2 linked regions of the Homo sapiens genome follow. The protein of the gene in region 1 purifies or fractionates together with the protein of each later gene. This does not show direct contact. Each region holds a gene or a part of one and is shown in the gene's direction. Other genes may lie near its edges.

Region 1 (3,500 bases):
GAATTTTTAAGACTGCGTAGGAGTGAAAGTAGTACAGGAAGGAAAGTGCTTATCAATTAATTGATTGATACCTCACCTCATTCCCTATAGGACAAGAAAAAGTAGGGAAAGAGAGAGAGTACTCTCATAATAAAAGAAAGCATGTTCTAAGACACAGTTGTTTCATAGGAAACAATATGGCCTCTTTGTGGATCTCCCGTTGCTTTTTAAAAAAAAATCAGTTGACAAATACATTTTATATATATTTATGGTGTACAACATGATGTTTTGAAATAGGAATACATTCTGGAATGGCTAAATAATCAAGCTACATAATATATATATATATATTACCTTATACACTTACTTTTTTGTGACAAAAATATTCTCAATTTTCAAGCATACAATACCTTGTTATTAACTACAGTCATCATGTTTGACAATAGAGCTTCTTGAATTTATTCCTTCTATTTAACTGAAATTTTGTATTCACTGCTTTTGAATGAAAAGGGAGGGGACAAGAGATAACAATTGCAGTATTAGATGGCATTTATATGCTATGCTGGGTTTAAAATTTTTGGAAGACCATACATTGAGTGGGTATAGTGTATATAGAAGATAAATGAGAGAAAAACAAAGTAACATGTCAAAGAATATATAACTGTTACGTGTAAAATGACTAATACATGGTAAGCACTCAACTAAAAAGTAAGAGCTTGGTTTCAAACATTGGTCACCAGACTCCCACATTTAAAACTCCTTTTAGTTGAGAAGAATAAGAGAATTGAAAGAAGATTGAAGAGATAAGAGAGGCTATATGAAAGGAGCACCATATGTTCAAATAGAAATACACTGAGAATGGGATGGGCATGACTAGTAACAGTGAGGAGATATAGTGAGGCTTGATTTTAGTTGACTTACCATACAGGCATCATAATTTGGGATCTTTTCTATAATTTTCAAAGGAGAAATCATTGTTCACTAATGAAATGTCTTGACTAAAGCTAAAATTGGTAAGACAAAGCCAAAAATTAGATCTTGGAAAAAAGTAACTTCTAGAAATATTATTAGAATTTCTTAATGTCATCTGCTTTGTATTGCACCATGTGCAAAGAAACTTGTGCATAGCAGGTAAACCAAAACCAAGTAGACTAGTAGACACTTATTCAATGGCCTCAGACACTAAGTATCAGTACTTCTACAAATGAGTAGAAGTTACTCGGTAGTATATTTCATCTCAATTTAAGGGAGACATTTCCAAAAGAGTTATCCAAAGGTGGAGTCAGGTATTTTGCAAGGTAATGGATTGCCTTTTGGGGAAGGACTTAAGCCAGGGTTGGACAGGTTTGTGTTTGAGATGTTGTTAAGGTCGCTCAAGCTTTAAATGTCAGAATCGGCCGACTGGATTTATGTTTTTATTCCATTGTTGGCTGTCAATAAAGAGCAGGACAATATATTTATGTCTTTCATCAGCATCCATCCATATAGCAATTATTTTTTATGCACGGGCAAATATTCTGCTGGCCATAAGGATAGTAAGACTTTGACTATAAAAGACACCTATCAAGAATTGTTCCCACTTCCTTCAACTTTGGTGGTAGGATCTAGGAGCAATCTGATTGTCTCAAGGTTGCCCAAATTGCCCACTTGTTCCTACTCAGTGGCTAATACATTCACATCTTTTCTAAAAGACTCAGATCTCCATGGTGGTGTGTGCATACTGTTAATGAATTAACAGTGTTTATGGCCTCTGGATGAAATCGTTCTTAAGAATATCCTAAAAGAACTTGCTAACTGCTACTGGATATTTTAGTAATTAGAGTCTGGGAGCTAGCTGTAGATTTGGGTCTCAGATCAGCCACTTACTAGCTCTATGACAGTGGTCATGTTATTTAAGTTATGAACCTCAGCTTCATTATTTGCAGAATAGGAATAAGGACAGATCTCCCACACAGAGCAGAACTGACTTGCAGTGTAAATGAGATAATACATGTGAACAGCTTGGCAGTACCTAGCACAAGGTAAATGGTCGATGATGTTAGTTAATGCTACTGCAAATGATGGTTGTTTGTTCTCTAAGTTCCCTTGGCTAGATTCTAAGCTTCTGTGCTTCCTATATTGCAGACATTGATGAATGTGCCTTAAGAACTCACACCTGTTGGAACGATTCTGCCTGCATCAACCTGGCAGGGGGCTTTGACTGTCTCTGCCCCTCTGGGCCCTCCTGCTCTGGTGACTGTCCTCATGAAGGGGGGCTGAAGCACAATGGCCAGGTGTGGACCTTGAAAGAAGACAGGTGTTCTGTCTGCTCCTGCAAGGTGAGGCTGATGTGGTGCAGCAGAAATTGAAACTGTTCTTTCTCTTCTTCCCTCACTTTTCTACCTCCCCAGCTCTCTCCCTCTTGCTGTTGACTGTAGTTCCTGAACAGGCTTCTCCTGTTCTTATCTACATTACAGCTAATGATGATGCTAAGGGGTAGGGAAGCCTGCTTTGAATTGATTGTGTTCTTAGTGGAAAGTGAGGTATGAGATTGAGAAGGAACTGCAGGGAAGGCGAAGCAGGGTAGAAAAGCCAATGATAGTCCTCCCACTGAAAGCCTACAGTGCTTTTAAGGTTGGTTGGGTGAGAGTTTTAATGAGCCCTCATCCCACGCTTATACAAACTTGCTGATTAAAACTACTCTTTGCCTAAAATAACCACCTGCATGAACTTGCTCACTTTATGACATCATCTAGAAAAGCAAGGCCAACAGACTTGCATCCAGTGCTGAGACAGGTGGATTTTCATTTTGAACAAATGATAATGATAGTATGAGGCCTCTTAGAAATTGATGTCTTCTTTGTTATTCTCAGTGCTGGGCCATTCCTTATATTAAGTTGTTGGAAAGTGAGCTTAATGCTTATGAAAATAAAATTCTGTCATCATTTGGTTTTGCTTTATGCTTTGCAAAATGGGTCTATTAAACTGTTTGATCTCTTTGTGCTTTATTTCTTCTTTTATTGATCTTGCCTATTTATTTTCCTTTGTTATTGCTCTACTGTAGCTCTTGCCTGGTATGTCTATGTCTGTTGGGATGGGACTATTTAATCTTGAGCTTTATGTGCATGGGAACCAAGATAAATTACTTGCTTAGTAGCCTCTTAGCCAAGTCTCCTGATAAATTCCCAGTCTGCTGAAACAGAGCTGAAATGAGCCTTAAGAAATCATCCAGTTCATCCACTTGCCTTCATCTGCCACACATCCACAGACCTGGGGCCACCTAGTTAGGAGGGCCACATTATCAAGTGCTAGATCATTACCCCCAACACCTATTTTTTCCCCTTTCACATAAACCTAGTTTCCCACACTCCAATCTAGGTTTGTTTTCCCTTATTGGAGCACCTGCTATATTTCAGCCACCCTATAATTCAAAAAAGCTGCATCATGTTTACTTCTTACAGCACTACTTTGAAAGACAATGAAACTGAATTTCCATGGGATAAAGTAACTTGCCCTAAATGTTAAAGATATAAATGTCTAAG
Region 2 (3,500 bases), on another chromosome or scaffold:
CATGTCACGCTTCTCAGAATGACTATTATTAAAAAGTCTAAAAATAACAGATGCTCGTGAGTTTGTGGAAGAAAAGGAACATTTATACACTGTTGGTGGGAGTGTAAGTTAGTTCAACCACCGTGGAAGACAGTGTGGCAATTCCTCAAAGACCTAAAGACCATTTGACCCAGCAGTCCCGTTACTTGGTATATACTTAAGGGAATATAAATTGTTCTGTTGTAAAGATGCATGCATATGTTCATTGCAGCACTATTCACAATAGCAAAGACATGGAATCAAGCTAAATACAATAGCAAAGACATGGAATCAACCTAAATGCCCATCAATGATAGAGCAGATAAAGAAGATGTGGTACATACACACTATGGAATACTCTGTAGCCGTAAAAAATAATGGGATCATGTCCTTTGCAGAGACATGGATGGAGCTGGAGGCCCTTATCCTTAGCATATTAATGCAGAAACAGAAAACCAAATACCACTTGTTCTCACTTGTAAGTGGGAGCTAAATGATGAGATCACATGGACACATAGAGGGAAACAAAACACATTGGAGCCTTTCAGAGGGTGGAGGGTAGGAGGAGGTTCAGGAAAAATAACCAATGGGTACTAGGCTTAATACCTGGGTGATGAAATAATCTGCACAACAAACCCCCATGGCACACATTTACTTGTGTAACAAACCTGCACATGGACCCCTGAACTTAAAAGTTAAAAAATAAATAATTGTGGGAGGAAAACATTGAAGTGTTTCTTACATATTTTTCTCTATGCAGAAGAAAGCTGTGGTGATTCGTCACTTGTATAATGAAGATAATGTTGACATTTCTGAGGATACATTAAGTCCAATAACAGATGTTAATGAAGCAGTTGATGTGTCTGACTTAAATGCTACTGAAATAAAGATGCCTGAAGTAAAGGTTCCTGAAATCAAGGCTGAGCAACAGGTAACAACTTTGGACTTTTTAAATAGATGCCAGTATTTTTTACTTAAATATGTGTAATTATTTCAGCCTCTAAACTTTGGAATATTTCTAGCCTTTTGAATTATTAATCATGACATTTTATCTATGTTACAATTACTGAAGTGTCAATAAGTCTTACTAAAATAATTCAACAAATATTTGCTGCATATGTGTAGGGTGCTGGGCTAAGTGTTGGGGTGATGCAAAGTAGAATAAGATATGGTACTTGGCTTTAAGGAATCTACAATTTAGTGAGACATAGCGATATGCTACTTTGCATAGTGGAGGTTCTCTACCACCTATTTTCTTTATTGGTGAATGGAAAAGATTGGCACTTTATTGCCTATTCATTTTCCTTTCTGGGTCCCTGCTGTTATTTTCTGTCTCTCTTAAAAAACCATTTCTATTACTCTTAATTGCCACAGACCCCAATATGTCTGATCTCTACTGTTTCTGCTAAGACTTCTTTTTCTGTGTTTCTATGTCTTGTGATTTCTATATATCTCAGTATATCAATATACAGTTGGCACTTACAAAAACTACCAGATGGCCATTGGACCTACTTCCTGTTATATGGCAAACCGAACAATCTCAATGCACTAAGTGTTGTTTTTGGTCATTTCCTCTTAGCTTTGTGCTAAGCGTTGTTTCAAGAAGCTAGTTAATAATAGTTTTATTTTACTAGCTGGTATTAAGAGAATCATGCAAATTAACTCATTATCAGAAGAATCATATGAAATAGATACTGCTCTTATCTCTTTTTTTTTAATGAGGAAATGGAGGCATCAAGATCATAAATCTCAGAACTGGTTTAAGTGGCCAAGTAGTCTCCATCCAGAGATAGCTCTCTTAACTCTCAAGCAGGACGGTCTCTCCTAACTGTTGAGATAACGCTGTGGAAGTGAGAATACATTAATTTTAAAGAAATTTCAGTTTGTTTAATTTTATTTTTAATCTCTCTAACCTTTTTAGGATGTAAATGTTAATCCTGAGATTACTGCACTACAAACTATGCTTGCTGAATGCCAAGAAAATCTTAAGAAACTGACTTCGATAGAGAAAAGGTTAGACTGTTTGGAACAAAAAATGAAAGGAAAAGTGATGGTAGATGAAAACACCTGGACTAATCTTCTTAGTCGTGTCACTCTTCTTGAAACAGAAATGCTTTTGTCTAAAAAGGTATTTTCCTCCTTTAACATTTATAAAATATCTCAGATATAACAAAGTTTTTTTTTGATTGTTATATGTGTATTTTTTTGGAAATGCTAAATATGAGAATATTTGAATAATGAGAAAATGTCTAGTTAGAATGAAGTCCTGTTTAAATATAGCCTGTATGTTGTTGTGGCTGTTGTTTCTCTCTTCATTGAATAAGATAATCTGAAAAACTTGTCAGTTGAGCTTTTACAGATGTTAATAATGCTTGAAGAATTTAAAATGAGGTAAGAATATGATAGATATGAAAAGCTTAAAATTATTTTATATCTTTTAATAGTACAAATAACCTATTTTCATAGGGTAGAAAAGATACAGAAGATATAGGTAACTCTTCCCATCTTTTTTTCACTCATTTACTTCAATCATATTGTGAATTTCATAGAATAGTTACCAGATTTACCATTGCCTTATCAAATCTGAGAAATTTGTTTTTTTTTACTCAGGATTTCAATTTCTGGTCTGTCTTTCCTTCCTAGAAGGTGAAGTCAAGTAGCTTGCTATCTGCTTCCATATTTAAAACATTTCTTATATGTAGGAATATGCAGTATATGTATTGCTTTAATAAAAAATTAAAAATATTTAAACATTTATCATGCTACCTTTATATTTTATGCTCAGCATTAAGAATATAAAATGAGAGGGTTTTTCTTTTTATTTCATTCTAAATATTTAACTGTGTTATTCCAGAATGATGAATTTATAGAGTTTAATGAAGTTAGTGAAGACTACGCTTCTTGTAGTGACATGGACCTTCTGAATCCTCGTAAGTTTGTAAATACTATGAGAATTGGTATGATGAGTTTTCAGAAAAATGATTGTTATAGTAATTTTAATATTCTTAAGCTTTATTGTTTAGAAATTGCAAAGCTCCTAGAACAAAGAACATAATGAACCTACAGACTACTAAAGCCAAGAATTGCTTAACTAACCAGCCTACTTATTTCACATAACATAGTGGGTGAATAAATTTCAGTGTACAAAATTGAAAATTTTTAGAGATATTTTACTGTTTTAATCATTCGAGAATAATCAAGTGCTCTAGGATATTAATGTTGGCCTCCAAGTTTTTAAATTTAAGCTTAGGTAGGTAGTAGCTTTCTCATATGTAAATAATAATATGTAAGAGAAGAAAACACATTTGTCAGTATCTATAAAGTATTGCAAACTTCTTCCATGTGAATAGTTCACTGATAATGATAAAATGGGAAAGATCTGATATTAGGATAGGTCTTTTCCTGGTCACTTTACTAGGCTACTGATATTTTGCTTAGTGTGACTGAGCAGCAAGGGTAAGATTTCTGTTTTTCAGTGACAG

Evidence for each region. Proteins that work in one complex are often made in the same cells at the same time.
Region 2: the proteins of NELL1 (region 1) and CEP44 purify together in Homo sapiens (affinity purification with mass spectrometry; 2 studies listed by BioGRID and IntAct, with this or other methods). This does not show direct contact.

The regions. Positions count from the first base shown.
Region 1 is NC_000011.10:21,558,086-21,561,585, forward strand, and holds part of NELL1 (protein kinase C-binding protein NELL1 isoform 1 precursor), read left to right. Parts: intron 1-2,103; coding exon 2,104-2,297; intron 2,298-3,500. UniProt on the Homo sapiens protein: Plays a role in the control of cell growth and differentiation. Promotes osteoblast cell differentiation and terminal mineralization.
Region 2 is NC_000004.12:174,307,911-174,311,410, forward strand, and holds part of CEP44 (centrosomal protein of 44 kDa), read left to right. Parts: intron 1-778; coding exon 779-949; intron 950-1,939; coding exon 1,940-2,146; intron 2,147-2,872; coding exon 2,873-2,948; intron 2,949-3,500. UniProt on the Homo sapiens protein: Centriole-enriched microtubule-binding protein involved in centriole biogenesis. In collaboration with CEP295 and POC1B, is required for the centriole-to-centrosome conversion by ensuring the formation of bona fide centriole wall.